Homo sapiens: one gene and its partners. The protein of the gene in region 2 interacts with the protein of the main gene of each other region in a pairwise test. Each region holds a gene or a part of one and is shown on either strand. Other genes may lie near its edges.

What was found.
Region 1: the proteins of CREB3L3 (region 2) and KHDRBS1 interact in a two-hybrid assay, tested with the Homo sapiens proteins (one large-scale study listed by BioGRID and IntAct).
Region 3: the proteins of CREB3L3 (region 2) and STX5 interact in binary tests that used the Homo sapiens proteins (3 or more experiments, as listed by UniProt).
Region 4: the proteins of CREB3L3 (region 2) and PELI2 interact in a two-hybrid assay, tested with the Homo sapiens proteins (one large-scale study listed by BioGRID and IntAct).

Annotation. Positions count from the first base shown.
Region 1 is NC_000001.11:32,032,978-32,040,698, reverse strand, and holds part of KHDRBS1 (KH domain-containing, RNA-binding, signal transduction-associated protein 1), read right to left. Parts: intron 7,512-7,721; coding exon 7,365-7,511; intron 3,790-7,364; coding exon 3,656-3,789; intron 2,865-3,655; coding exon 2,663-2,864; exon of another isoform or gene 2,580-2,662; intron 2,148-2,579; coding exon 2,080-2,147; intron 1,185-2,079; coding exon 1,126-1,184; intron 1-1,125. UniProt on the Homo sapiens protein: Recruited and tyrosine phosphorylated by several receptor systems, for example the T-cell, leptin and insulin receptors. Once phosphorylated, functions as an adapter protein in signal transduction cascades by binding to SH2 and SH3 domain-containing proteins.
Region 2 is NC_000019.10:4,163,367-4,171,087, reverse strand, and holds part of CREB3L3 (cyclic AMP-responsive element-binding protein 3-like protein 3), read right to left. Parts: intron 6,586-7,721; coding exon 6,448-6,585; intron 2,738-6,447; coding exon 2,631-2,737; intron 949-2,630; coding exon 880-948; intron 1-879. UniProt on the Homo sapiens protein: Transcription factor that may act during endoplasmic reticulum stress by activating unfolded protein response target genes. Activated in response to cAMP stimulation. In vitro, binds to the cAMP response element (CRE) and box-B element.
Region 3 is NC_000011.10:62,824,119-62,831,839, forward strand, and holds part of STX5 (syntaxin-5), read right to left. Parts: intron 7,538-7,721; exon of another isoform or gene 7,333-7,537; intron 7,145-7,332; 5' UTR 7,126-7,144; coding exon 6,901-7,125; intron 3,514-6,900; coding exon 3,443-3,513; intron 3,281-3,442; coding exon 3,225-3,280; intron 3,108-3,224; coding exon 3,037-3,107; intron 1,422-3,036; coding exon 1,305-1,421; intron 1,222-1,304; coding exon 1,165-1,221; intron 1,000-1,164; coding exon 918-999; intron 448-917; coding exon 341-447; intron 170-340; coding exon 48-169; intron 1-47. UniProt on the Homo sapiens protein: Mediates endoplasmic reticulum to Golgi transport.
Region 4 is NC_000014.9:56,122,092-56,129,812, reverse strand, and holds part of PELI2 (E3 ubiquitin-protein ligase pellino homolog 2), read right to left. Parts: intron 1-7,721. UniProt on the Homo sapiens protein: E3 ubiquitin ligase catalyzing the covalent attachment of ubiquitin moieties onto substrate proteins. Involved in the TLR and IL-1 signaling pathways via interaction with the complex containing IRAK kinases and TRAF6.

The DNA of each region.
Region 1 (7,721 bases), on a different chromosome or scaffold from region 2:
AGGTAGCTCTCGCTGCATCCACTGCCACATAGTATTCCCAGTGAGGCCTATTAACACAGGGCCATAACTGGCTCTTGAGGACACACTTGAGCGATGTGTTTTTAACCAAACCTCAGGGAAGGCAGCCTTGTCCTGCTGCTGTTGCAGCCTCCATAGCTCTCTTGGGATCAAGGACTGTGTTGATGTCTTCAAGCCAACAAGGAGCTTGGTGCCAGTACTGTCCTGAATTATTGGCTCTAGCCCCTACAGCCTCTAATCTGATTCTAATAGGCACTATTTTTTTTTTTTGAGACGGACTTTTGTTGCCCAGGCTGGAGTGCAATGGCACGGTCTCAGCTCGTTGCAACCTCCGCCTCCCAGGTTCAAGTGATTCTCATGCCTCAGCCTCCCAAGTAGCTGAGATTAAAGGCGCCCACCACCACACCTGGCTAATTTTTTTGTATTTTTAGTAGAGACAGGGTTTCACCATCTTGGCCAGGCTGGTCTCGAACTCCTGACCACAGGTGATCCGCCTGCCTCGGCCTCGCAAAGTGTTGGGATTACAGGCATGAGCCACCACGCCCGGCCCTAATAGGCACTATTCTTGCCCCGCAACCTGGTCTGGCTAGCTGCTTGCCATCTAGGTCCCTTTCAGCTGACATTTCCTTTACAATGACATTCTTTTCAATGAGATCTAAATTTTTTTTTTAATGAAATGGGGTAGATGAGTACAGTTGTGTACGATTAAGTTCTTGTTATCTACCAAAGTGGCCTAGATATCGGCAGCAAAGGCCCAGAAATACAACCCAGGTCTAGCTATTTCCCTGCCTAAAGTAGAAAAAAAATAACATTAGCTTATAAGTCTGCTGCTCCAACCAGGGCCAAGCTGGTCTTGAGCCCTTGTTTAAGACAAACACTACCCTTCCAAGAGTAACGATACCCCACCTCACTTTAGCAGTCCCTCTTTCTACCATGTACCGCAAAATTTAAGCAAGAGCAGAACTCTTACTGTCACATCTAGCAAAATCTTGGCCTTCTAAAGGTTTATCCGTAGGTGTGTTTGTCTGACTCTCAATACTTTAGTCACCAGCATTCTCCCAGGCACTTACTTGTACATTCTGCCCCACCACAGAGATAAAGACATACCATAAGCTTCATAAGAATCTTGAACCTCCCCATGTCCATAGTCATAATATTCTGAGTCCCTGAAAGCCAAAGGCAGAGTGTTAGGAAGCTACAGAGTAACTATGTTTCAACTTTCTCTCAAATACTTCCATAAGTCAGTCATTTTACTAAGTGTATTAATACAGGAAAATACTCATTCTGCCCCATCCCTAAACCGTAAAGTATTTCCAAAATATGTATAGACTATGTACTTATAAAATAATTGACAACTATTGCAAAGAAAAATGGATACCACAGAATATAAAGTGAAAAAGCACAATCCTAAATTGACCCTTTTAATATAGCATATATATACATGTATTCATAGGGCTCACCAGAAGGAAAAAAGAACTGTTTTATCACTGCTGTAGAATTCTGGAACTCTTTTTCAATCAATTCACAGGTAAGCTATATATATGGACACACAAGGAAATGGTCTTAAAGAGAAATGCAGAAAAGAACCTAAGTTATGGTAATGGAATTCAAGTTTCTTGTAAAATTTTATGGAGCTTTAATGTGGTTTTGATATTTTAAAATAATAAATCAAAATAACATAAAGGCATTTCTCCTTGTTTCCATGTAGTCACAGCTTGGAAATTTTTCATTTGTTACTCTCAGGTTCTAAATTATAATTTAAGGTTCACAGTTATCCAGATTTACAAATCCAAGTGTGTGCTTCACAGATGTCAAACGCAGAGGAAAGCATTGCATGGTGGCACGCACCTGTAACCCCAGCTACTAGAGAGAGCTAAAGTGGGAGGACTGCTTGAGCTCAAGAGTTCAAGACCAGTCAGGACTGTGGGGGTTGCAGAGGAGATACCCTCAAAAGGCGAACCATTCTGCTCCTTAGGGTTGTACTGTCTAAATCTCTCTGTTCCTCCAACTCCCTCCATCCATCCTCAGGACAAAAAACAGTGCTTATACTGCCTGACTCACCCTTGACTCTGGCTGTAATAGCCTTCGTAGCCTTCGTAACTTTGTTCTGCGTATGTATCATCATATCCCTAGAACAACAACAACAAAAAAATGAAATAAAAGATCAAAATCATAGAGAGTAGGAAAGGTAATTACATCCCATGGGAGTAAGTAGGCTTCTGAATTAAAAGGACATGACATTTCCCTCCAAAATGTTAATGCCTACTGTAGAATAGTCAAAAGAGAAAGGGTTACTAAACAAAGAAAACCCAAACAAATATGATATGCCACAGAAGAAGTGTGGGCAGGAAGTAAAGTACAAAATCGAGCTTTAGTATTATCAGTACTAGTAGTAAGAAATTCATTATAAAATACTACATTAAAGTACATTTTATTTCTTGTTTAATCTACAGGCGTATAGTAAAACCCTGCCTAAAATGGAAAAATCTTCTAATAGTTCAACATTCACTGCAAGAGAAGAGGGCAGATTGCAAATCTTACAGGCAGTCCATGACACCTACATAAAGGACCGAGGCCCTGTCATTCAACTTCCTTTAGCAGCCTTCTAGGTACTGGGAAATGGCACATTGTTCAAATTTCTTACATATTCTTCATATGTTTCTGGTGCAGGAGGTGGAGGCAAAGGTATCCTCTGGATGCCCGCTGTCCGTGCTCTTGGTGCTGGAGCACCCCTCACAGTAGGTGGGGGTGGCACGCCTCGAGTCACAGTGGCACCTCTGGTGATGGCTCCCCTTACTGGTGTACCACGTACCAAAGCCCCCCGAGGTGGTCCAACACCACGGCCCCTACAAAATGAAAGTTTATCTTAAATGGAGCTTTTTATAAACAGGCCACTTTTATGTTCTGATTTGTTTACAAATTCTGGAATTAGGCAGATTTTATGAAGCCTTAACTAGGCTATTATTAAAGCACAGAGGAATGTACAGGGTAAAGGACCCACACTGCAAGATCCCCCAGGTCCTATAGAGGACCAATTCATCACTGCACTGCCTTGGGTAGGTCTGGAGAGTCTGAATACTCTATAAAGGTCAGTCACAAAAGGTAGAATTTTAAAGTCAGACCATTAACAAATGCTAAGACTGTCCAAAATTAGAAGACCAAAAGTTTCAGCTAGACTGCAGCACTTGGCTATGGTCAAAGTGCCCAAGATCTAGAACTCTATTTTTTTTTTTTTTTGAAATGGAGTCTTGCTCTATCTCCCAGGCTGAAGTGCAGTGGCATGATCTCGGCTCACTGCAACTTCCGTCTCCTGGGTTCAAGCAATTCTCTTGCCCCAGCCTCCTGAGTAGTGTGGTGTATGCCACCACACCTGGATAATTTTTGTATTTTTAGTAGAGACAGGGTTTCACCATGTTGGCCAGGCTGGTCTCAAACTCCAAATGTCAGTTGATCCGCCTGCCTTAGCCTCCTAAAGTGCTGGGATTACAGGTGTGAGAGTATGGTTGTAGAATTCTGTTCTTTATGCAACATACAAATCCTGAGACCCTTCCTAAGCTAGACATAAGAGCACCACTAAAAGAGATGACACTAGTAGTCAAATTCACATCCTATTTCTGGGTGTCTCCATTATTTTTACCTGGGAACAGGTGGTGGAGGAGGTGCAGCTCCCCGGCCTCTCACTGGCACCCCACGTCCACGAGAGGGTTCAGGTACTCCATTCAAGTAGGACAGCTCTAGAAATTGCTCCTGACAGATATCATCCATCATATCCTGGGAACGAAAGATACAAGGAGTATTGTGTGGTATCTACACTTTCTACTGAGAAATCATCTGGTCCACGGGAGACTTGAATTCTAAGAAGAGCTCTTGAGAGCCCAGATGAGGTCTCAGGTCATTCCTTCTCTGAAGTCAAATGGCACCCTATCTGTCACCTCTTTGAGAAAAGTCTTGATGGTAGACCCCTCATTATTCATAATGTGGTCTCTGCCTAGCTCTCCGGATCACTTCCATTCTCTCTCTATATATAACCTACTCACAAGCCAGACTGAACAACTTGTAGTTCAGAGCCTGGCATACTCTTACATATCCATTCTTTGCAAATAGTTTCCTTTTCCTGGAATAATAAAAGCCACTACCATTAATGGAGCTGTATGCACTTGGCTCTATATAATAAGCTTTATATAGATTTTTCAGTTTAATCTTCAAAATGAGGGCCGGGTGCAGTGGCTCACGCCTGTAATCCCAGCACTTTGGGAGGCCGAGGCGGGCAGATCACGAGGTCAGGAGATCGAGACCACCCTGGCTAACACGGTGAAACGCTATCTCTACTAAAAATACAAAAAAATTAGCCGGGCGCGGCAGGCACCTGTAGTCCCAGCTACTCGGAAGGCTGAGGCAGGAGAATGGCGAGAACCCGGGAGGCGGAGCTTGCAGTGAGCCAAGATAGCGCCACTGCAGTCCGGCCTGGGCGAAAGAGAGAGACTCCATCTCAAAAAAAAAAAAAAAAAAAAAAAAAATCTTCAAAATGACCCTGAAATAAGTAGGCAGATCTCCACATTTTACAGTTAAGAAAACAGACTCAAGGAGTATACATCAACCAGCTTAAGAACACAGAGCTAATAAATGGCAGACTCTAGATGTGAATTCAGAATTACCTGTCTCAAAATCTAGGTGTTGGATCAACAGGCTTTTTTGTCCTTATACTGTCTTTTTTGTCCACCTGAGGGATTCTTAATTCATCCTTACAAGACTTGCCTAAATAAGTGTCTCTTGAAAAACTTTCTCTTGATGCCACCCCTACAACTCCTCTTTTCTCAAAGTACCACATAATTCCCTATACCCAAGCACTTACCACATAATTTTAGAATTGTCTGTCACTAAACTGTAAGCTCTTTAGGAGCCATTTTTGTAACTTTACACCCAAGCATAGTATCAGACATCTGACAGATACTTAAGAAATGTTTGGGACGAACAAGAAACCTGAAGCTCAGAAAAGTGAAATGATAACCTGTTCAGGAAGACACAGATAGACAGACATACATAGTCCAGTGCTCTTCCTACGGCACTGTGAAGCATTGCTGGTATAGTTAATTGTTCTAAGTGGAAAATGGAGGGCTCTGGTCACAGATGCAAAAATAGCCTCACTTTTCTTTCCTCCACAAGAGGGAAAAATCAAATGCCACTGGCAAATCTTTTCACACTTCCTATTGAGAGCCATTCAGTCTTAATACTTCATGCATTTTTATATATCCCAGGCGTATACAGCTTCAATAGATGATGCTAGTCTTTGATGCCCCCCTCAACTCTCTAGCTCCTCCTACCTTACACATTACCGCTGCTTGAGACTCACACCTTGGAGAATCAAGTAACCAATGCCAGACCATTGCTCAGACTCCTCCAACTGCCACATCAACACTGAGGAAACCCACATCTCCCCGGCAAGCATCTTTTTCAAAAGATTCACTTACAAGCAAGCCTCATAAACCTAACCCTTCTGAGGAATATGAGGGAGACTAACAATGAAGAGAGGAGATGGGCATTCCCTCTGCAGTCCTTTGGAAATTGAATGGCTTGGGTGATCAATAGAACACCCCAAAAAGAGTAAAAAGAATTTCCTTAAGATTATTAACCAGCTGTGTTTTTCTCTAGGATATGTTAAATGGTCTGTTTCATGTTGAACATTCTTTTTTTTTTTTTTTTGAGACAGAGCCTCACTCTGTCACCCAGGCCAGAGTGCAGTGGCGCAATCTCGGCTCACTGCAAGCTCCGCCTCCCGGGTTCATACCATTCTCCTGCCCCAGCCTCCCGATTAGCTGGGACTACAGGCGCCTGCCACCACGCCCAGCTAATTTTTTTTTTGAATTTTTAGTAGAGACGGGGTTTCACCATGTTAGCCAGGATGGCCTTGATCTCCTGACCTCGTGATCCACCCGCCTCGGCCTTCCAAAATGCTGGGATTACAGGTGTGAGCCACCGCGCCCTGCCTCATGTTGAACATTCTAATGAAGATGAGGTACTTGAAAGCAAAGCAGCTGCTAAGACATTTGAGACTGTTGGAATCCTTGGAGTTCAGCATTATGGGTACACAATGCCTAAAAACTTATTTATTTATTTTTTTTGGAGATGGAGTTTCACTCTTGTTGCCCAGGCTGGAGTCCAATGGTGCAATCTCAGCTTACCGCAACCTCTGCCTCCTGGGTTCAAGTGATTCTCCCGCCTCAGCCTCCCTAGTAGCTGGGATTACAGGCATGTGCCACCACGCCCGGCTAATTTTGTATTTTTAATAGACAGGGTTTCTCCATGTTGGTCAGGCTGGTCTCGAACTCCCGACCTCAGGTGATCTGCCCTCCTCGGCCTCCCAAATTGCTGGGATTACAGGCGTGAGCCACCGTGCCTGGCCCACACTGCCTATAAATTTTTGCCCTATCAATTTTCACATCATCTGACACCACATTTAGTTCTAATTCCCTCATTTAACATTCAAGAAAACCAAGGACTGTATCTTACCTCCTCCTAGTTTTCTGATGAACACATGACGCTTACTCAATTCTACTTAATAATATTCCAAATCCTTCATAAGTCTCCAGATTCATCCTTGTTATTAAATATTCAACAGTAGTATGTTAACTCTGACAACCACCAGGCCTTGCTAAAAGGCAAAAATAGTACCATTTCCTATTTATTCAAAGTAATATTCCAACCAAGTATTCAAAGGTGGTAACAAGCAAGATAGATAAACTGGCCTGTCCCATCTCTATCTAGTCCTCAGTAATAGTCTGAAAAAAGCTGCTCACCTATCTGTTAAACATCAATAGTCAACCTCTTCCAAACTAAACTCGTCCTCAGCAAACTCCTCCAGGAAAGAAATCCCTGAGTGTGCTCAGGTCAGAATTTAACCCAATAACACTAGATGCTATAAGCTTCTTGCTGCTAGTCTCTACTCTCTACAGCATGAACTTCTTGAGTGCAGAGACCCACCTTAGTCACTTTCCTAACACAATCTCCTTGTTCCACACTACTACCAAAATACTCAGCTAGGTGAAGACCCTGTTAAACCTTAGTTAACCAAATATCAGAATGCAGGCACACTGTGGACCCGAGATACTGACAAGATACCGGTACACAATGAAAACCACATTAGACAAGGAGGGATAGAGTGGCCTTGGAGCATAATGCTTTGAGAACTAGGTGCAAGTAACGAACTACCTAAGGAAAATGAACATAAGTGCAGAATTTGGTATACATACAGGTTATGCAGAGACCTTAGTTAAGAACCCCTACCTTCACAACAGTATAAGATCCCAGTTCTCTTTTGCTCAGAAGACACAGGATATGGATTTCCTTACCGGTACTAGAAATTTCTTGACTTCCTCCATGGCATGGGCCATAAGAGCATAAGCCTCACATGGGGGTCCAAAGACTTCAATGAAGACATGCAGATCCATATTCAAGTGGGCATATTTGGGGTCTCCACCTTTGCGCAGCTCTTCCTCCTATGGAAAAATGCAGAGAAATGTCACACCATGGACTAGGGAGAAAACACCACCTTTACCTCTAAGCCAAAGGAACAGCAAGAAATACCCCTAATGTCCATGAAAAACAGTAAAGTTAATTGGTATGAGCTGAGAAGAATTAAACAAAAAAAGAAAAAAGAAAAAAGAAAAACAGTAAAGTTTAAGAAAGTAAAACAAGCAGCCAGGCGC
Region 2 (7,721 bases):
AGAGAGACAGGCAGGCCTCCGCTGAGCCCTAAAGGGCCTCGGTTCTGCTTCTCGTCCATTTCCGGGGTCCCCCAGCCCCGCTAAAGTCCAAATTCCATCCATTCTTCAAGGGCCTCTGGCTCTTTATTATTTATTTTATTTATTTATTTATTTGTTTATTTATTTATTTATTTATTTTGAGACAGAGTCTTGCTCCATCGCCCAGGCTGGAGTGAGTGGTGGGATGGCAGCTCACTGCAAGCTCCGCCTCCCAGGTTCACACCATTCTCCTGCCTCAGCCTCCCGAGTAGCTGGGACTACAGGCGCCCACCACCACACCCAGCTAATTTTTTTTGTATTTTTAGTAGAGACGGGGTTTCACCGTGTTAGCCAGGATGGTCTTGATCTCCCGACCTTGTGATCCGCCCACCTCAGCCTCCCAAAGTGCTGGGATTACAGGCGTGAGCCACCACACCAGGCCTTATTTATTTATTTTTGAGACAGAGCCTTGCTCTGTCACCCAGGCTGGAGTGCAGTGGTGCGATCTCGGCTCACGGCAACCTCCGCCTCCCGAGTTCAAGCAATTCTCCTGCCTCAGCCTCTCGAGTAGCTGGGACTGCAGGTGCCCGCCACCACGCCTGGCTAATTTTTTTGTATTTTTAGTAGAGACGGGGTTTCACCATGTTGGCCAGGCTGGTTTTGAACTCCTGACCTCAGGTGATCCACCCGCCTCGGCCTCCCAAAGTGCTGAGATTACAGGCGTGAGCCACTGCACGCGGCCCATAGGTAAAACTCTTATTCCCTATGTCATTCTGCCATCACATGGGCTCTCTGCTCTTCCTGCAAAGGGACTCTGGGGCTGCTTCCCCTGTCCTCTGCCCCAGCTGGACCCAGACTCACAGGTTTTGCTTCTCGAGATGCAAGACTTTCCTCTGTAACTCCTGATTCTGAGCAGTGCAAGCTGACATCCTGAAAGGAGGAAGACGCATCGACATTCAGCATATGCCAGTCACCAGCTGGCCCCACTGACATCTCCCCCAGAGGCCTCACGTTACAAGCCAAGAGAACCCAAGGCCAGAGAGGGGAAGTCATTCATCCAAGGTTACTCGGCAGGTCAGACAGGGCTGGGATTTGAACCCACATCTGCCTGGTTCCTAGGTCCCATTTCTGCATTAATATGGAGGGGGCTTCATTCAAAGCTGAGCCCCCTGGATGGGTGTGGTGGTTCACACCTGTAATCCCAGCACTTTGGGAGGCCGTGGTGGGCGGATCACCTGAGGTCAGGAGTTCAAGACCAGCCTGGCCAACATGGTGAAACCCTGCCTGTACTAAAAATGCAAAATTAGCCAGGTGTGGTGGTGGGCGCCTATAATTCCAGCTACTTGGGAACTTGGGAGGCTAAGGCAGGAGAATCGATTGAACCCGGGAAGTGGAGGTTGCAGTGAGTCAAGATCGCACCATTGCACTCCAGCCTGGGCAACAAGAATGAAACTCTGTGTCAAAAAAAAAAAAAAAAAAAAAAAAGCTGAGCCTCCTAGATTCAGGCAGTGATGTTTCCAGAAGATGAAATATCAGGACAACCAGGCATCCTGGGAGACTCAAGTTTCTTTTTTTGTTTGTTTGTTTTTTGAGATGGAGTCTCGCTCTGTCGCCCAGGCTGGAATGCAGTGGCACAATCTCGACTCACTGCAAGCTCTGCCTTCTGGGTTCACGCCATTCTCCTGCCTCAGCCTCCCGAGTAGCTGGGACTACAGGCACCCGCCACCAAGCCCAGTTAATTTTTTTGGATTTTTTGTAAAGACAGAGTTTCACCGTGGTCTCGATCTCCTGAACTCGTGATCCGCCTGCCTCAGCCTCCCAAAGTGCTGGGATTACAAGTGTGAGCCACGGCGCCCGGCCGAGATTCAAGTTTCATCTCTCCCTCTCCCCATGACCTTGGGCCACTCCACTCTCTGATCTCAGCTTTTGTGTCTGTAAAATGGGATACAATTACCCAGGACATAGGGTGGTGGGGGGAATGACCCTGGATAAAGATGATCAGGAGCTTAGCAGATTGCATTTAAGAAAGGGGAGAGACCAGGCGCAGTGGCTCACGCCTGTAATCCCAGCACTTTGGGAGGCTGAGGCGGCCAGATCACCTGAGGTCAGGAGTTTGAGACTAGCCTGGGCAACACAGTGAAACCCCATCTCTACCAAAAATACAAAGAAATTAGCTGGGCGTGGTGGCCATGCACCTGTAATCCCAGCTTCTGGAGAGGCTGAGGCAGGAGAATCGCTTGAACCCGGGAGGTGGAGGTTGCAGTGAGCCAAGATCGCACCACTGCACTCCAGCCTGGGTGATAGAAGGAGACCCTTCCACACACACAAAAAGGAAGTGTCTATCTTCAGGCAGAGGGTCAGAATAGGATGGGTCACACTTTGTCCTTTTTCCGCACACCTTCTAGGGGGCAAAGGGTCCCCCAAACCCTTGTCCTACACCATCACTAGGCATCTTTCCATCCCTGCAATCAGTAAGAAGCATGATCTCTCCCAGAGAGGAGAATCACCTCCAATTTTGTCAGACTCTAAGCTGTGTGGCCTTAGCCACATCTCCTTCTCTCTGGGCCTCAGTTTCCTCCACGAGTGTAGAGTCTGGGTCCAGCACTACCCACCGAGTCTCCAGGCCATCGATATATTCCTTCTTCTTCTTCCTGCTTTCTTGCGCCGACTGCTTGTTCCGGATTTTCCGGCGGATTTTTTTCAGCACTCGCTCCTCGTACTGCCAAGTGAAATGGGGAGGAGGGTTTCAGGCCAGAAAGTCCCCACTTGGAGTCCGGGGGCAGTAGCTCTCGCCTGTAATCCCAGCACTTTGGGAGGCCGAGGCAGGCGTATCACCTGAGGTCAGGAGTTCGAGACCAGCCTGGCCAACATGGTGAAACACCGTCTCTACTAAAAATACAAAAATTAGCCAGGCATGGTGGCGGGTGCCTGTAATCCCAGCTACTCGGGAGGCTGAGGCAGGAGAATGGCATGAACCCGGGAGGCGGAGGTTGCAGTGAGCCAAGATCGTGCCATTGCAATCCAGCCTGGGCAACAAGAGCGAAACTCCATCTCAATAAATAAATAGATAAATAAATAAATAAATAAATAAATAAAATAATTAAAATTAAAAAATTAAAGTCTTCACTTTGGGGATGGTGCGACAGTCCCCACTGTCCTGACCCCACTTCACCTAACCTCGACCCCACAACTTCACCCCATCCTCTTTGCATACAAGACATCCCGGAGCCAAGGACCCAGAGGCAGATTCCTAATGACTTGAAGCTACCCTTTGCCCAAACCCTCACAGAGTCTCTGGGAGGTGCCTGGGTTCTGAGGGTCTTTTCCCAGCTCCCAATACTGTAAAATGGGCAACTGCCCACCAGACTTTGGGCATGGGTACCACTCCACCACCTTGTGGCCATCCCTGGAAACATCACCTTTCCCTGGCGACAGCAAGTGTTTTAAGACTAATTAATAATTTTTTTCTTCTTTCTTACGTTTCTTTCTTTTCTTTCCTTTCTTTTCCCCTCCCTCCCTCCCTCCCTCCCTTCCTTCCTTTCTCCCTTTCTCTCTTTCTCTCTTTCTCTTTCTCTTTCTCTCTTTCTTTCCTTTTCTTCCTTTCTTTCCTTCTTTTCTTCCTTTCTTTCTTTCCTTTCTTTCTTTCTTTTCTTTCTTTTCCTTTCTTTCTTTCTTTCTTTTCTTTCCTTCCTTTTCTCTCTCTCTCTCTCTCTCTCTTTCTTTCTTTCTTTCTTGTTTCGCTCTTGTCACCCAGGCTGGAGTGCAGTGGCAAGATCTCAGCTCACTGCAACCTCCACCCCCAGGGTTCAAGTGATTCTCCCACCCCAGCTTCCCAAGTAGCTGGGATTACAGGTGCACAACACCATGCCTGGCTAATTTTTGTATTTTTAGTAGAGACAGGGTTTCACCATGTTGGCCAGGCTGGTCTCAAACTCCTGACCTCAGGTGATCCGCCCATCTTTGCCTCCCAAAGAGCTGGGATTACAGGCATGAGACACCACACCCGGCCAATAAGTGTCTTCAAATGGGAATGTCAGGCTGGGCGCGGTGGTTCACAGTGCTGTAATCCCAGCACTTTGGGAGGCCAAGGCAAGAGGATCGCATAAGTCCAGGAGTTCAAGACTAGACTGGGCAACATTTAGTAAAGACCCTGTCTCTACTAAAACAAAACAACAACCACAAAATCAGCTGGGTGTGGTGGTGCATGCCTATAGTCCCAGCTACTTGGGAGGCTGAGGCAGGAGGATCCCTTGAGACCAGGAGTTCAAGGTTGCAGTTAGCTGCTACCTGCAGATTGTACCACTGCACTCCAGCCTGAGCGACAAAGTGAGATCCTATCTCAAAACAAACAACAACAACAATAGAAACAGATGGGGCCAGGCACGGTGGCTCACACCTGTAATCTTAACACTTTGGGAGGCCAAGGTCAGAGGACTGCTTGAGGCCAGGAGTTTGAGACCAGCCTGGGCAACATAGCAAGACCCTGTCTCTAAGGAAAAAAAAAAATGCTGGGCGCAGTGGCTCACACCTGTAATCCCAACACTTTGGGAGGCTGAGCTGGGCAGATCACAAGGTCAAGAGATCGAGACCATCCTGGCCAACATGGTGAAACTCTGTCTCTACTCAAAAAAAAAAAAAAAAAAAAAAATTAGCCAGGCGTGGTGGCGCGTGCCTGTAATCCCAGCTACTTAGGAGGCTGAGGCAGGAGAATCACTTGAACCTGGGAAGCGGAGGTTGCAGTGAGCCGAGATCGCGCCACTGCACTCCAGCCTGGGCAACAAAAGCGAAACTCCGTCTCAGGAAAAAAAAAAAAATTAGCTAGGCATAATGGCATACACCTGTAGTCCCAGCTGCTAGGGAGGCTGATGTGGGAGAATCACTTGTACTCCAGAGGGGGAAGTTGGAGTGAGCCAAGATCACCTCACTCCACTCCAGCCTGGGCAACAGAGTCAGAACCTGTCTCAATAGAAAAAAAAAAAAAACAGATGAGAATATCAAACTCAGGCATTGATACTGAGTGCAGCAGGCTGGGTGGGGACTGTGGTTAGCTAGAGAACCCAAACAGCTACCCAGCCATTGACTGGTGCATATGGAGGTTTGAGAATATGAAACAGAGGACATTCAAGTAATTGAGTTGGTTTTTTGGATTTTGTTTTGTTTATGTTTTTAGTTTTTTTGTTTTTGTTTTTGTTTTGACAGAGTTTCGCTCTTGTCACCCAGGCTGGAGTGCAGTGGTACCATCTCGGCTCACTGCAACCTCCACCTCCCGGGTTCAAGGGAGATCCTCCTGCCTCAGCCTCCTGAGAAGCTGGGAGGCTGAGAAGCACCTTACAGTTGCCCACCACCAGGCACAGCTAATTTTTGTAATTTTAGTAGAGACGGGGTTTCACCATGTTGGCCAGGCTAGTCTCGAACTCCTGACCTCAAGTGATCCTCTGCCTCAGCCTCCCACAGTGCTGGGATTACAGGTGTGAGCCACCGTGCCCAGCCTCAAGTCACTGAGTTCTCTTGTAAAATCTACCGGTCAGAAAAACATTATCAAGCAATTCAAAAATGTATAAAATGCAGTACAGTCCAATCAAAACATGTCTGCAGGGCCAGGCATGATGGCTCATGCCTGTAATCCCAACACTTTGGGAGGCCAAGGTGGGAGAATCACTTGAACCCAGGAGTCCCAGCCCAGCCTGGGCAACATAACAAGACCCCATTTCTACAAAAAAAAAAAAAAAATTAAATTAGCCAAGTGTAGTGGCGTGCACCTGTCATCCTAGCTACTTGAGAGGCTGAGGCGGGAGGATCTCTTGAGCCCAGGAGGTCAAGGCTGAAGTGAGCTATGATGGCACCACTGCACTCCAGCGGGACACAGCAAGACCCTATCTCCAAAAAAAAAAAAAAGTTTGCTGCACCCAAATTGCTGCCACCTGGAGTCCGCCATTCATTCCTGGATGTTGATAATTACCCTCTGAGTTGAATTTACAATGGGGCTTCTGACTGATTGTTTTGGCTCTGGTGACAGACACAGCATAGCATTCTAGTACGGGTGTTCTAAAGGTGAGACACATAGCCAGTGCGGTGGCTCACGCCTGGAATCCCAGCACTTTGGGAGACCGAGGCAGGAGGATCACATGAGGTCAGGAGCTCGAGACCAGCCTGGCCAACATGGTGAAACCCTGTCTCTACTAAAGATACAAAAATTAGCTGGGCGTGGTGGCGCATGGCTGTAATCCCAGCTACTCAGGAGGCTGAGGCGGGAGAATCGCTGGAATCTGAGAGGCAGAGGTTGCAGCAAGCTGAGATCGTGCCACTGCATCCCAGCCTCAGTGACAGAGAAAGACTCTACTCTAAATAAATAAATAAAGGTGGGACACACATGCAGGTAAGTGCACGAAGGGGAGATGGATCCAGGGCTGGAAGTCCCCCCAGACTCACCTTAGTGAGGGGCAGCTGAGTGGGCAGGGTGATGCCTTCTTTAGCCAGCAGCTTCTTCTCATCCTCGGTGAGCACCAGCTCCTGACAGTGCCCAGCCCCAGGTCGCAGGAGGTAGGAGGCCCCCAGGTGATGCTGTTGCTACGGAAAAAATCAGAGGAATGACGGCGGGTGCAGGGACGCCAACTGCCTTCAGGAAATGAAAGAGGTATCAGATCGAAAACACTATCACCCCAGGCTGGGTGTGGTGGCTCACGCCTGTCATCCCAGCACTTAGAGAGGCTGAGGCATGTGGATCACTTGAGCTCAGGAGATCGAGACCAGCCTGGGTAACATGATGAAACCTCGTCTCTACTAAAAATACAAAAATTGCCCAGGTGCGGTGGCTCATGCCTGTAATCCCAGCACTTTGGGAGGCCGAGGTGGGCAAATCACTAGGTCAGGAGTTTGAGACCATCCTGGTCAACATGGTGAAACCCCGTCTCTACTAAAAATACAAAAAGTTAGCTGGGCGTAGTGGCGGGTGCCTGTAATACCAGCTACTTGCGAGGCTGAGGCAGGAGAATCGCTTGAACCCAGAAGTCAGAGGTTGCAGTGAGCCGAGATTGTGCCACTGCACTCCAGCCCTAGTGACAGTATGAGACTCCGTCTCAAAAAAAAAAAAAAAAAAAAATTACCCGACCATGGTGGCGGCGCCTGTAATCCCAGCTACTCAGGAGGCTGAGGCAGGAGAACTGCTTGAACCCGGGAAGCAGAGGTTCCAGTGAGCCCAGATCACACCACTGCACTCCAGCCTGAGAGACAGAGTAAGACTCTGTCTCAAAAAAAAAAAAAAAGAAAAGGTGGCTCACGTCTGTAGTCCCAGCACTTTGGGAGGCCGAGGCAGGTGGATCACTTGAGGTCAGGAGTTCGAGACTAGCCTGGCCAACATGGTGAAACCCTGTCTCCATTAAAAATACAAAAATCAGCCTGGTGTGGTGGCACGTGCCTGCAATCCCAGCTACTCGGGAGGCTGAGGCAGAAGAACCGCTTGAACCCGGGAGGCAGGGGTTGCAGTGATCTGAGATCCAGCCTGGGCGACAGAAATTCTGTCTCAAAACAGCAACAACAAAAACTATCACTCCTGCCACCACAGAATCTCCCTTGGCAGCAGGGCTCGAAATAACCAACACACGGTCCTTTGACCGGGTCATTCTACCTTCAGAAATCAGTCCTACAGATATCCTCACACACGCGCAAAATGGCATATGGACAGGGTTCTTTCTTTCTTTCCTTCC
Region 3 (7,721 bases), on a different chromosome or scaffold from region 2:
CGGGGAAGAGAAAGCTCCTCTGTTTGGGGCGAGAGAGTGTATCTCACCTCTGAATGGTTTCCTCCTGTTCCTTAACCATGTGTGCCAACTGCTGAAAGATGGAGCCCAACTCAACAATTGTCGACTCAATGTTCTGCATGGTGTCTGCCCGACTCTGGATGTAGGAATCCTTCAGGAGAGGGAGAGAGCACATGAGCACCAACAGCTTCTTCAGGGTCAGACCTGCATTTTTACAACCCTCCCAGCTTGCCATTCTGCCCATGGCACACTCCAAACACTCTCTCGGGAACCACAGAGGATAATGGAGAAGCTGATTCTACCTAGTTCAGAGCCTGGGTACCTGCTCGTCAATGAGCTGCAGCTGCTGGCTGGTCCGAGAGTCCATCATGTCGATGGCGACATCCTTGGAGGCATGGGACTCTGCCCCCAGAACCACAGCACCACCGCCTGGGGGAGAAAACAGGATGTGGCACACCTTAACAGTTAAAAGCAGGTTCAAAGCCCACATGCTCTGGGTTTGAATCCCAGCTCTAGCACTTACTAGCCTTGTGACCCTGGACAGGTCATTTAACCTCTCTGAGCCTCAGTTTCCTCACCTGTAAAATGGGGGATAATAATAGTTGCTTTCTCAAAGGGTGGTTGTGAAAATTAAATGAGAGAATGTGAATAAAGTGTACGAAAAAAAATTAGAAATTATCATTATTCTGAATATAACTGAATTCACCCCAACAGTGAGAATGTGGGAGTCTAAATGTGGATCACGAATCTCAACCATCTGGTTTGGCCTCTGAGAGATAAAGCCTAGAAAATTCCTTGACCTTCCACTCTCCTACCCAACCCGTGCCTTTAGAGGATGCCATCACAACCAGAGTAAGTAACCTTACCTCCCAGGGCTCCCCGTTTTACCTGTGACTTACCCAGGTGGTTAGGGGCAAGGGGCAGGGCTGACACAGGTGCCCGGGAGAACTGCTCTCTCCGGCTCCTCTGCTGCTTCAGGTTCTGGGGTTGGGGAAAAACGCAAAGGACCTGAAGCCACTAGAAAGCAGGCATGTTAAAGAGACTCCCACCATTGGCCCCATGACCCTGTAGAACTTGTCCCTTCTTCATTTCCCTCTTGGATCTTTACTCCCATATTCCTACCCCTCCTACGCAGATTGTTCTCACCTCTGTCCTCACTTCTAAAACCGATTTGAAGTCATTGGACATAGAAGCCAGTTTCGACTAGAAGAAAAGGAGAGAGGGTCAACCAAAGAAGGCTCCACATTCTTCCTCTTTGCCTCCCTCCCTTCCTCCCCAGGTCCCACCTGCAAGGAGACCACAATGGTGTTGGAGTGGGTCTGCAGGTGCCGGCCACTCTGGCTGCCCTTGGCTCTCACGAAATCCTGGAGCTGAGCAATTTGTTTGTTGAGGCTATTGATGTCCTGGTAAAAGAGTCCAAGGAAAAACAAAGTATTAGCCAAGGAGTCCTTAGTCAGCATCTCTCACGATGGCCATCTCTGGTAGGAAGGACAAGGTGGAAGTTACTAGCCAGAGTGAGAGTATCTCAGACAGTCAGACCAGATGGGCCTGCTAGGATTTTCCAAGGTCTAGTGTTTGCTCTGGCTCAGTCCCTGCAGAGAAGAGCTACAAAGAGGCAAAATAGGCCTTCATCCATTGTAAATAACTTGTTTACTCCTCCAGCCTACTGCCCTGCTCCATTCTGTGAGGCCATGCTCTTGGCCACAGAACCCTTTCAAAGGCCAAAATCTCGGGTCTAGGGCATGACCAACAAAGCCCCCGGACAGTACTCAGGAAAAGGGAAGAGTCAAAGGCACTGTAGTTTCGAGAGGCATCAACAGAACTATTTTCATACACACAATTCCTCAATGGCTAATGTCTGTAAACCCACCACTTTGAGAGGCCAAGGCAGGCAGATCATGAGGTCAAGAGATTGAGACCATCCTGGCCAACATGGTGAAATGCCATCTCTACTAAAAATACCAAAAATTAGCTGGGTGTGGTGGCGCGCGCCTATAATCCCAGCTACTTGGGATGCTGAGGCAAAAGAATCGTTTTGAACCTGGGAGGTGGAGGTTGCAGTGAGCCTAGATCGCGCCACTGCACTCCAGCCTGGCGACAGAGTGAGACTCCGTCTTAAAAAAAAAAAAAGTTATTATTGGCCTGGCGCGGTGGCTCACGCCTGTAATCCCATCACTTTGGGAGGCTGAGGTGGGCGGATCACCTGAGGTCAGGAGTTTGAGACCAGCCTGACCAACGTGGAGAAACCCTGTCTCTACTAAAAATACAAAATTAGCCGGGCGCGGTGGCACGTGCCTGTAATCCCAGCTATTCGGGAGGCTGAGGCAGGGGAGTCACTTGAACCCAGGAGACAGAGGTTGCAGTGAGCTGAGATCGCGCCACTGTGCTCCAGCCTGAGCAACAAGAGTGAAACTCTGTCTCAAAAAATAATAATAAATAAATAAATAAATAAAATAAAAGTTATTATTACAGTCGAGTGCAGTGGCTCACACCTGTAATCCCAGCACTTTGGGAGGCCAAGGTGGGCGGCTCACTTGAGGTCAGGAGTTCGAGACCAGCCTGGCATACCCCGTCTCTACTAAAGATAAAACAATTAGCCAGTCATTGGTAGCGGGTGCCTATAGTCCCAGCTACTGGGGAGGCTGAGGCAGGAGAATCGCTTGCACCTGGGAGGTGGAGGTTGCAGTGAGCCAAGATCGCACCACTGCACTCCGGCCTGGGTGAAAGAGCAAAACTCTGCCTCAAAAAAAAAAAAAAAAAAAAAATTATCCAGGAATGAGGGCATGTCCCTGTAGTCTCTACCACTCAGGAGGCTCAGGCTGGAGGAAAGCTTGAGGCCAGGAGTTAAGGGCTGCAGTGAGCTAGGTCACACCACTACACTCCAGACTGGTCAACACAGTGAGACCCCCCTCTCTAAAAAAAGAAACTTGCTCTGGGTCCCCATGGCAATGGAAAATGACAGGAAGACAGAAGTGATCTGATTGGAATGCTGGGCTCTCCTGATGGCTAGTAGCTCACCTGTTTGATGATATATGTTAGCTCTTCAATTTCCACTGCTTTATCATCAAAGAGGGACTTGCGCTTTGCCACTACAGAGACAAACAAGAAGCCACAATGGGTGAGGTCAAGGACAAAGCTCAGGGAATATAGTCCTCAACCCTCTTTGATTTACTGCCCCACTTCTGAAAGACCCCAAGAACACTCACAGATTGTCAGCTTCTCCAGCTTGGCAAATGTGTTGCTAAGGTCTTTCCCAATGCGCCTGCAAATGACCACTAGTCAGACTGTGGGAAAGGGCAGGACGCCTTTTCCCACATAAGCTCCAGCATAACCAATCCCAGACTTCACAGCCAAGGCCACTGATTGCAAGTCTACTTTTCTTCAGACACTGTATCACCCCACCAGAAAGCTTCTCTCAACTCACTTGGCCATGAGGGTGAATTCACTGCGTTGTCGGACAGCACGCAAAGCTGGCTTATTTGTCTGGATTCCATTCTGAAAAGCAATGGCAGGAGGTGACAACTTTAGTTCTCCCTTCCCCAGTTCCAGCTTTCACTCTTCCTGAGGTGTCCACTAACCTATCTCTAGTGCTGGTGGCATCCATCAGATGATCTAGATTTATGAGTGGTAGTCGTTTAGAGTCCAGATTTGAAGAGCAGGTAGACCTGAGTTCAAATCTTGACTCACCACTTACTACTAGCTGGTGGATTTGGGGCGAGTTACTTAAAACATTCTAAATCTCTACTTTCTCTTCTATAAAATGAAGACAATCCACACATCTCCTATTGTTGCTAAGGTTAAATAACAAAAAGGCTGAAAAGTACTTCAGTCAACTACCTGGTACATAGTAAGCACTAAATAAATGGTATCTAGTATTGCCATTCTATTCCTCAAATCAGGAAATCAATAAGGATGATTGCAAAGCTCTTGGAGATCATACAGAAGAGCAGCTTTACCATGAGCTGAAAAACACTTCTTTATAACTTTTCTGTTTTTGAGACAGGGTCTCACTCTGTCTCCCAGGTTGGAATATAGTAGCATGATCATAACTTACTGCGGCCTCGACATCCTGGGCTCAAGTGATCCTCCAACTTCAGCCTCCCAAGTAGCTGGGACTACAGGGCACACCACCACACCTAGCTAATTTTTAACTTTTTGTAGAGATAGGGTCTTGCTATATTGCCCAGGCTGGTCTTGAACTCCTAGGCTCACGCAATCCTCCCACCTCAGCCTCCCAAAGTGCTGGGATTACAGGTGCCAGCCAGCATGTCCAGCCATCAGTAAAAATATTTAAAAATACAGTTACTCGGCCGGGTGCAGTGGCTCACGCCTGTAATCCCAGCACTTTGGAAAGCTGAGGCAGGCGGATCACGAGGTCAAGAGATTGAGACCAACCTGGCTAACATGGTGAAACCCCATCTCTACTAAAAATACAAAAATTTAGCCAGGTGTGGTGGCATGCACCTGTAGTCCCAGCTACTCAGCAGGCTGAGGCCGGAGAATCACTTGAACCTGGGAGGTGGAGGCTGCCGTGAGCCAAGATCCCACCACTGCACTCCAGCCTGGGTGACAGAGCGAGACTCCGTCTCAAAATAAATAAATAAATAAATAAACAAACAAACAAACAAATAAATAAATACAGTTACTTGGCCAGGTGCAGTGGCTCACACCTGTAATCCCAGCATTTTGGGAGGCCGAGGCAAGCAGATCACGAGGTCAAGAGACAGAGACCATCCTGGCGAACACAGTGAAACCCCGTCTCTACTAAAAATACAAAAATTAGCTGGGTGTCCTGGCACCGCCTGTATTCCCAGCTACTTGGGAGGCTGAGGCAGGAGAATCACTTAAACCCAGAGGTGGAGGCTGCAGTGAACCCAGATCACGTCACTGCACTCCAGCCTGGCAACAAAGAGAGACTGTCTCAAAAACAAACAAACAAACAAACAAACAAACAAACACAAACTGCTTACTCGGGTCCCACTGGGATTGTTGAAAAAAACACTCCCGGCTGGGTACGGTGGCTCACGCTTGCAATCCCAGCACTTTGGAAGGCTGAGGCGGGCAGAGCACCTGAGGTCGGGAGTTTGAGACCAGCCTGACCAATATGGAGAAACCCCGTCTCCACTCAAAATACAAAATTAGCCAGGCATGGTGGCGCATGTCTGTAATCCCAGCTACTTGGGAGGCTGAGGCAGGAGAATCACTGGAACCCGGGAGGCGGAGGTTGCAGTGAGCTAAGATCGTGCCACTGCACTACAGCCTGGGCAACAAGAGCGAAATTCCCATCTCAAAAATAAATAAATAAATAAATAAATAAATAGCACTCCCAAATTTTTTTTAAGAGGAGCTGAGTGCAGTGGCTGACACCTGTAATCCCAGCACTTTGAGAAGATAAAGCAGACGGATCACTTGAGCCCAGAAGTTCGAGACCAGCCTGGGCAACATGGTAAAACCCCATCTCTACTAACAAAACAGAAATTAGCCAGATGTGGTGGCACATGCCTATAATCCCAGCTACTGAGGAGCCTGAGGCAGGAGGGTTGCTTGAGCCCAGGAGGTCAGATGTTGCAGTGAGATGAGATAGAACCATTGTACTCCAGCCTTGGTGACAGAGTGAGACCATGTTTCCAAAAAAGGAGAGAGAGAGGCCAGGTGTGGTGACTCATACCTGTAATCCCAGCACTTTGGGAGGCTGAGGAGGGCAGATCACCTCAGGTCAGGAGTTCAAAGCCAGCCTGACATGGTGAAACCCCATCTCTACTAAAAAAAAATACAAAAATTAGCCGGGCGTGGTGACGGGCACCTGTAATCCCAGCTACTCGAGAGGCTAAGGCAGGAGAATCGCTTGAACCCAGGAAGAGGAGGTTGCAGTGAGCCGAGATTGCACCATTGCACCCCAGTCTGGGCGACAAGGCAAAATTCCTTCTCAAAAAAAAAAAAAAAAAAAAAAGAGAGAGAGGAAGAGACTGGGCCTCGCTCAGCCTTCTAAGTAGCTGGGACTACAGGCACATGCCACCACGTCCAGCTTTTTTTTTTTTTTTTCCTGTAGAAACAGGGTCTTGCTTTGTTGCTCCTGCTGGTCTCTAACTCCTGGCCTCAAGTCATCCTCTGGCCTAGGCCTCCCAAAGTGCTGGAATTACAGGTATGAGCCACCACATCCAACCCTAAGTGATTTTGATACAAATTACTGATCTAGGGCCAGGTGTGGTGTCCAGACCAACCTGGGCAACATAGTGAGACACTGCCTGTACGAAAAAATTTTAAAATTAGCTGAGTGGTGCATCCATGTAGTCCCAGCTGCTCAGGAGGCTGAGGAAAGAGGATCCCTTGAGTCTAGGAGTTCAAGACTGCAAGTGAGCTATCATCACACCACTACACTCCAGCCTGTTGACAGAGTTGAAAAACAGATCTCAAAACAAAACAAAAACAACAAATTACTTATCTAGAAAATGTCCTTAATCTTACAGAGATAAAAACTAATATGTAACTAGATTAACTAATTTTCTCATGGTTACAGAGCAAACTTATGGTAGAAGTATATTGGAAAATTCAAGGTGCATGTTTCTCAGCTAAAGGCTCTTCCTAGAACTTGTTCCTTATTCACACCAATTATATTGCAGCCAAGTACTCTCTGAAGTACTCCCTCCAGAATAGCAATCCTGCCCTCCAAAGGATTCCTCACAAAAAAAAGTCTAAGTCCTTGCCCCTAGTTAGCCAGCCGACCTCTTCTCTGTTGCTTATAGCAGACCCTACAGGCCCCATCCAAGCCTATCAGTTCCATCAGGTACCCCCCAAAATTACTTCGGTTAACAGTGGTGGAGCACAGTCCTTCCTAGATTTGAGTAAGGCTCACTCCTCGCCTTTTCCACTCCAGGTCCTTACCTGACGGGTCTGCAGCGACTTGCAGGCAGACAGAAACTCCTGGGTCCGATCCCGGCAGGACATGGTGTCGGGAGGGGGAGGGACGAGGGTCACTGGGGGGGGCAGAGGGGCGATGTCGCTGCTGCTACTGCCAGCAGTTGCAGGGGACAGGACCTGTGTCTTTGAGAGACCCAGGTAGACACCCTGATCCGTGTTCTTAGACCCGTAGCGTTTCCGCGGGATCATTGAGACGCATAACCTCGGACTGTTGTGGAGGGGAGAGTGTCATTCCCCAGGCAACTTCTTTACCCAAACTCCCCCGCCCCACCCCAATCAACAAATCCCCGAGCCCCTTCTGCACTTCTCGTGGACTTTCGCGCCCAGGACGCTCGCAAATCCTGGGGCGGACCAGCAGCGGAAAGGGCCCCGCTTTTCCCCTGTCCCAAGTCGAACCCGCTTCAGACTCTTCTTCCAACTTGGCTCTGGCGGCCAGAGCGCGGGCCGGGGACCCTGAAGCAGAGACAGGGCCAGAGCCAACCCCGTGGTCCTGAGACTCCGGCCCGGCCCGTGTAACTGCCCCGGGCCCTAACCCAGCCCTTTCGTTTCCGCGGTTTCCTTCGGCCCCTCCGGGAGGGCCAGTGACGGACCTCCAAAGACTGACACACTTCGGTGGGCGGAGGGGGAAAACCTCTGGGTGTTTATTTGAAACAGGAAGTCCCACCCCCCGCCCAAGGTCCGCCTTCTGGAAGACTTCAACCACTCATTAGCTAAGGCCGACGTCTCTCTCAACAGAGGCTTTCCTGATTGGACGGCAAGGAATTCGCTCACCCGGAGCCGGGCCG
Region 4 (7,721 bases), on a different chromosome or scaffold from region 2:
TGGGGGCTAAATGCCAGTCCTCACCTGCTCCACACTATTGCTGCCATAGCTCAGCAAGAGACAGCCAAGACCCCAAGGCAGAGGGACAAGTCCATCCCTGCTTGAAACAACAGCCTGGAGGAAAAGCAGCCCATTCTGCCTCCTGAGGGCGATCCCCTAGCTGGTGGGCACACTGTGCATCCTCCCATGCAGGAAAGAGCACAGGGCTATGGGTCCTTCTCCTCGTTTCTTGGGGGACAAAGCACTCAGGACCCCATCCCTTGGGCCTCCAGGGAAAGCAAGGCTCCAGAGGCACAGTTGTCTGAATGGGTAACAGGAAAGAGTTCTTGGATCACTAACTGCTCTGCCAGTGGAGTTTAACCCCAAAACATTCACTGGTTCCAGCACAAGTTTCAAAATCAAACCACTGAGTGCCCAAATAATTAAATGGATCACGTTATCTCACCTCACCCTTGCCATCGCACAGAAGGGGGCTACGCCCATTGTGAGCAACTGTTCTTTGGCAGGGGAAGAGAGACAAAGGTAGGAGGGAAATGAATTACAAAAGGGAAAACAAGCCTATTTGGAGATTTCAAGCAAGACTGGGTCCTAAGGATTAGTTCACTAACCTACTCAGAAGGCTGACACTGCCTGCTACCTAGAGTCTGCAATAATGCCTTGAAATGTTATTAGCAGGGCTTCCCCCTCCCAGAGGCCACAGCCTTTACTGGGCCCAGGTCCTTCCTTTCAAGTCTCTCTCATCACAAAGGCCCTCTCACCCCTTCAATTCCAAAGGCACTGGATATCCCTCAGCCTCTCAGCCCCTCAACCTCTCGATGTGCCTTCAGGTACTCTGCTTTCCCCTTGCTAACCCTTAGCTAACTCACCCTTTCTACCTCTGCTGACATAGAATTCCCTCCCTCCCCACAAAAACCTGCCCTCCCCCAAAAACAAATTTTGTCCCCTACTGTACACGAAACCCTGTACTTCTCCTTGGCAGCACCTTGCCAGGTTTGCTTAAAGGGCTTCCTTCTTGATGGACTGTAAGCTCCATGAAGGCAGGGACCACTCTGAGATTACCTACTATAACCCTAGCCCAAATATTTCAATACCCCAACAATACCCCAACCTGACTTTCCAACTTCACCTCCCTCCCCAAGTACTTCAGCCTCCAGCCATACCCCTCAAGGTTCCAAAATCGCCATGCTTTTACTACCACTGCTCTATAAAAAACCCAGGTCACCTCTCAAGGCTCTGCTAAAGGCCAACTGCCCCAGGAAATCTTTCCCAATCTCCCAGCAATACACATGCCTCTCACCTTCACCCTGGTGGAAATAATCAAGCAAGAGAGCCACAAGGACCTACCTTCTAATCAGATTCCCACTAACTAGGGGAGTGAGCTTGGACAAGTCATTAAGCTGGAGCCTCATTGCCCAGATAATAAATTTGAACTCCTGGAAAGGATAATGTAAACCACCTAACGGAACCTGGCATATAGTATGCCCAGAGCTCTCGCCCACCATCCCGCTACACCCTAATTAATGATTTGTTGCTAAGTCATCTGTCTTGCCCTTAGACTGTGTACCCCTGGGGGGCATTTCCTTATGTAGGCTCCACCACCCCTAGTCCTCTGAAGTGAAATCAGCCTCGTAAAACAGCAACAACAGCATCACCTAACACAAACTGAATGATCAGTGTTTAGTGTGTATGTTTAGATAGTGCTTAATTCCTAGTATGTACAGGCAATCCCATTTTTTTTTCTTCATCTTAAAGTTCAGGGGTCCATGTGCAGGATCAATGAATCCCATTTTTAATATACCCATGCAGAACACACATGCAATAAAATATATACATACACACATGCATCTCAAAATTCTTAGTGTAATTTTAAGCTTTAAAAACAACAAAATTATAAAAGCAACAGACTTAACATCATCTGGAAGTTCAATTATTTAAATTTCTTTTACACTCAGTTGATCAATTTTGAATGCAAAAGTTTTGATTTCACATCTTTTAGTCCCTCTCATTAGAAATGAAAAATGCTAAAATTCCCCAAACAGAATCTGGGGAAATTTCAGAAGTTACGTTCACTTTAGCTACTAGAGGAATGTTTTCATTTTCTTTCTATGGCAAAGTGTTCAATCTGGAGGCAGTAACCAGTGGATTCTAGGCCTGTAGCTCTCCCAACCCTGAGTGCTGTGCAGGTGGCTGGCAGCAGTGGCTGCTATCAAATTTTGTCTCTCTTTTGTAAACTGCACCACACAAGAGCCATCTTCTGCCTTGGCTTGCTTCTCACCAACACAGAACTGTTCTCCATGGTGTGGAGGAGACATAAAGTATTTCAGGAACTGTACTACCTTCTTACTGCCGACAGTCACAGACAGGTACAACCAATATAAATGAGCTCTTCATCCTGTCCTTTAACCACCCAAATGCAGTGTTAAAACATTCTTCTGGTCCTTCCACCATCCTGTACCTGCAGGATGCTTGTATAGATTACCCCACCTACTCGAATCTCTGTTAGTTCTGTTATTTCATGTCAGGTGACCTTTAAAAGCTTGAAAATCTGTGTCATGCATTAGCTCTCCTGGGTGAAAGCTGCTTATGTTCCAGTCTGCCAGAAGCATGGTTCTCAGTAAGCTAGGCTATTCTTCAACTGCCACGCTCTCAACAAATTTCAGATAATATTGGAGATTAACAAATGCAAAAAGACTTGCAGATGACTTATAAATTATAAAGCCACTCCAAAAATGCTTTTGTTAGCTAAGATTTTCAAACCGTACAGTACTTAATGTTTGGAATAACTCATCAAAAAGGCTGAAATTGTGCTCACTAGAATGATCAACAACCCGAGGAGACAAAAAACAACTCAATAAAAACTTAATGAATTTATTTCCTATCAGTCTTGTCAGGTTGCATTTTGAATTCTATCCACAGCATGTGATGAAAGTACCCAAACCATAATGTAATCTTATGTACTACATCAAGGATCTAGTCAGCATAATTTTCTGGGATCTGGTGTGAAAGCACACTCCTTTGTGTCTACAATCCTTCCGCAGGAAGGGCCTTTCCCCAACGCAATCAATCAATCAATCCATCAATCAATCATCAGTCCAGAAAAGCCTAATTGCTCACCCATCACCAGTTCTGATTATAATTAGTGTTCTATAATCATGGAGCAGGAAGCACAAGATGGGAAAGGAGGGGGGCCACCGAGGTCCTCCGAGGCACTTGGTAATCACGATCAGCCGTTTTATACCAATAGCCTAGAAGCCAAACACACAACTGCTCGCTCTGGTTAAATTCTGTTAAACCAGTACTAATAAGAATGGAAGTACAAAGCTTGAAACAATGATTTCTTATCCTAAAAACAGATTCTGCATGAGCAGAAAAGCAGGGATAAGCAGAGTGAAGTGTTTGAGAGTGAGAAGCATTATGCGGATGGCTAGAAAGAAAACCTCAATCGAGAATGACTCGCAATAGCCTTAAACCTGCTGCTGAAAATGCCCCCTGATGCATATTTATTAGGTCTGTCATCCAAGAGGCTTGTATGCCACAGTATTTCCAGCCATCATTAATAGGCATTAATGACCACAGCCTTTCAACGCCACTGTGGCGCACTGCAATGCAGCTCCGAGCAGCTGGTGGAATCAGAACAGATGGCCTGCTTCCCTTCAAGGCAGGACTTTCTGCAGGTGACAACATGACTGCTAGGTGACTGACAAAAAGAAAAACAAACAAAAGTTGAAACTGGAATATCTGATGTCAGTAAAGCACATGTTTAGTTTCTCAGGGAAACTTTGACTTGGGCCCTAAAGGTTGGTAGGATTGTTTACAAAACTGCAGTTGTGCTACAGAAGCAGAGTGCTCCTTCCAAGTCCAGAAACATTCACTAAGCCCTGGCCACATCTCCATGTGGGGTGGCAAACTAGGGTGTGCCACAGAAATCCATTTCTCCAAGAGGCTCAGTGAGTACCTAACATGCACCAGAAAGGGAAGCCCAGCATTCCAAGGAGGGGGGAAGTCAAGGTTCCTACCCTCAAGGGGCAATACGCTCTGGTGGAATTCAATGGCCACTCTGGGCACATGGCAAGCAGCACAGAGGGCAGAACCACGTTTTTGTCCAGGGATACTTAACTATCTGCCCTTGTATTTGTTTACACTTCTATTTTTCCCTTCAGTAAATTGCTTATATACGTTGCCTCTTAACGGGATACTTGGAATCTTCTGATTGAAAGAGCAGAACCCACTCAAGGTGGCTTAAACAGAAAAAAAAGTAAGTAAAAACCGAAAGAAGTGGGGACTCTCAAAGGACACAGGACTATTTTCTCGGAAAAGCTTTTCCTGATTATTTTGTCCAAAAGGATCCCCCACTACCTTATCCCTAGCATTTCACCCTGCCAATTCACCCCCCCCCTGCCCACCCAATAACTCTCTTCCTCCTTATCCTGCTTTAGTTTCCTCCCAGCAGTCTCTGAAGTTCCATTTTTTATCTACTCCTTTGCTTGCTCACCTCTCTCAAAAAAAGGTAAGCTCCAAGCAGGCAGGAAGGGCAGCTGTCTGTCTTGTTTGCTGGTGTAGCCCAGGGCTGGGAGCAGTGCTGGTCCTCAGTCAGTATCTTGAGTCACTGAATGAATGGTCAATCACACGAAACTAGGTCTCAGGAGGTACCCGAACCAGGAACTAGAAGCAAGACAGCTGCCCTCTAGCTCACACTCCATTCTCTCTCTGCCTTGTTGGGCTGCAGCCTCAGTTTCTCCTTCCAACTCCACTGTGCCTTCCAACTCCACTCTGCAAAGAGCAGAGGGCTTTCTTCACTCCCATCTCATACTAGCAAAACCCTGAGACAGTCTCCTGTGCTCTTAGGGTAAAGTCCAAACCCCTTCCAATATCTTATAAGCCCTTCATGATATCCCCCCATCATCATCCCTCACAATGTTTCATTCAATCATTCTTTCCTAGCCATAAAGAGTGTTTCTCTGTTCCTCAAAGTAGCTGCACGTTTTCATCTCTAGGTTGCAGAATACTCCAAACCTTCTTCGGAAAGCACTCCTTCCCTCTTATCTCCATCGTGGTCATCCCCATCTCATCCTGGCACATGGCTAGGGGACCCTGCTAACACATCCACCATCCCAGCCTTCAGGTCTTCCAGCTAGGCTGTCAGTGCTGCAGCAGCAGGGACCATGACTGTCTTGTTCATCTGCGTATCCCTTAGTGCAATCCACAGCATCTGACAAGTGGCAGATGCTCAAATATTTGGGGAATAAATAAATGAACCATGTATCAGTAACGGTTATTCACAAAGAGGCTGGGACAAAAATAAGAGAGCAGTTCACCAGGAAAAGGAATGTGTCTGCCTTGTCCTAGCTGTATTCCTCATGCCTGGAAGAGTAGACAGCCAATAAATATTTGCTGAATGCATACATTCCTGGCTTGCCTGATGTAACTCCACCCCTTTCTCTCCCACTTGAGAAAACACATCAGAATGCAAAAGGGTGAAAAATGACATTATTAACATGACATATCTGAATCATTTGAAAGATCCACACTTTATTACTTGTCATAAATTACTGGCCACATACCCTCAAGACTGATCATCACATATGAGGTACTTGAGACAGTGGTTGAGAACAGGTGATTTAGACAAAGCTAAGAAATATGAAGCACTTTCTGCTCTTATTATTTTATTTTCCAGAAGATGAAGGTGACAATAAGCTCAGTAAGAACTAATAACTGAATTATTCTAACCTTTACTTTTCTTTTTATAAAATAGATTTCTGCACACCCCAGGAGAAACGTTTAATTAAATCAAAAGACATTATAAATTCCTTTTCACAGTTATTTTTCTCCCATACCAATGAGGTCTACCAAGTTGCTGTTGTCTCCATTCAAAAGCCAACCTACAACCCCATATACCTACTTTCAGGAAGGCCACACTGCAAGCCCTGCACAGCAGATATAAAACCAGTGCTCCAATGTGACAATATTGGTCTTCCTCAAATATAGCAACGGCTATTTTGTTTTGTTTTGGTCCTTTGTGCATAAGTATTTTATCTTTTCGATAAAATGTTTGGTAAAATTACTGAACCTGAATCAAGCCTGTTTTACTTTCATTTATACACAGCATCCCCAAATATTGATCACAGGATGAAACACAACCAGAAATGAAAAGACCTAATGAAGCTTTCAGTCTTGGTGTGTTAAAGAGAGAAATAAATAAATCTGAGAAAGCCAGACCAGAAACCACACAGCAACACAGACAGCCACATATTCCAAACAAGGCTAAAGTTAGTAAAGGAAAATATAGCAACTCAAAGCCAGTAACACCGTAACCCTTAATAGCCCACAGAATTAGACACTCCATCCACACAAACAGATCTGAGCTCTTCAGATCACCCCACATGCTGAGCTACAGTAAAGATTTTGTTTTATAAATTTTTTTAAAGTTCAAAGACCTTTTAGTCTATAAAAGATACTAATGTTTGATGTCTTTGGGCCCAAATTAGAGTGGAGGATGAGAAAAGGAAAAGTGTTAGGGTATATTTGAAGGTTTCTTATTGCCACCAAAGGGTGGAGTAGTCAAGGCAAAGTGCTGAGGTTACAGCAACAACAAAAAGCATACAGAAAGTGGGACCTGCTTTTAAAAAAAAAAAAAAGACCATAAACTCTACAAGCTACTATACCCCTCTTTGTCTTACCTAACAAAACACTGAATCATCCAAAGGAAATGAGGCAGGTATCTACCTCCTTTTGTAGAGCTTATCAATTTCTACTAAAATACTTCATTTTTCAGTCATATTTAGTCATATTTATAAATTTTCATTTGTAGAGGTTCTTACCCTCTTTTTGTGCCAAGAATCCCTTTGGCAGTTTGATGACATGTAATGAGCCCTTCTCAGACTAATGTTTTTAAACATACAAAATAAAATACAAAGGATTACAATTGGAATCACTTATACTTAAATATCAAAAGTCTTAAATTGCTATACACATGTGCACTTCTGTAATAATGCATTAAATAACAAAATCTAGCAGCAAGTCTTTTTGTTGCCTACACTCATAAGTGAATGAAAATGCTAAACTGCAGTTTGAATATCATGAAAATCAAGACATGTTTTTCCCCCATCTAAGTTCAAGAATGTCCCGAACTCCATCTGTGGACCCTAGGTTAAGAACCCTTGGTTGAGAGAGCCAATAAAAATACATTTTGTGAAGCATCAAAAGAAAAAAAAAAAGTCTTGCAAAATGCATTATCCATTCAACTGTGAGGTGAGAGGAACTAAGAGAGTAAGCAATATTTTTCCAAAAACCACCATGGGCCATTAGTCAGCAAGAGAGCCACATGCTTCAAATTGAATCCAGAAAGGATGCTTTGAGGAACTGACAGCGCTGCTGGAATCTGTCTTAAAGTGAGGAAAGGGTAGAGTAGGGGAGTACAGCCACCCAGCTCAGCCCAGATCAACTATGAACTTGAACCTCTCTTGTTCTGGGAGCCTGTGTCCTCAAGAATAAAATATAAGGGCTAAACATATACCATGACCATTAGGCCCCCTTCCAGTCCTAATTTTTTTTTATTATACTTTAAGGCTGGAATACATGTGCAGAATGTGCAGGTTTGTTACATAGGTACATACGTGCCATAGTGGTTTGCTGCACCCATCAACCCATCATCTACATTAGGAATTTCCCCTAATGCTATTCAGTTCTAAATTTTTATCATGAGATCATCTCCTCTTTATGCT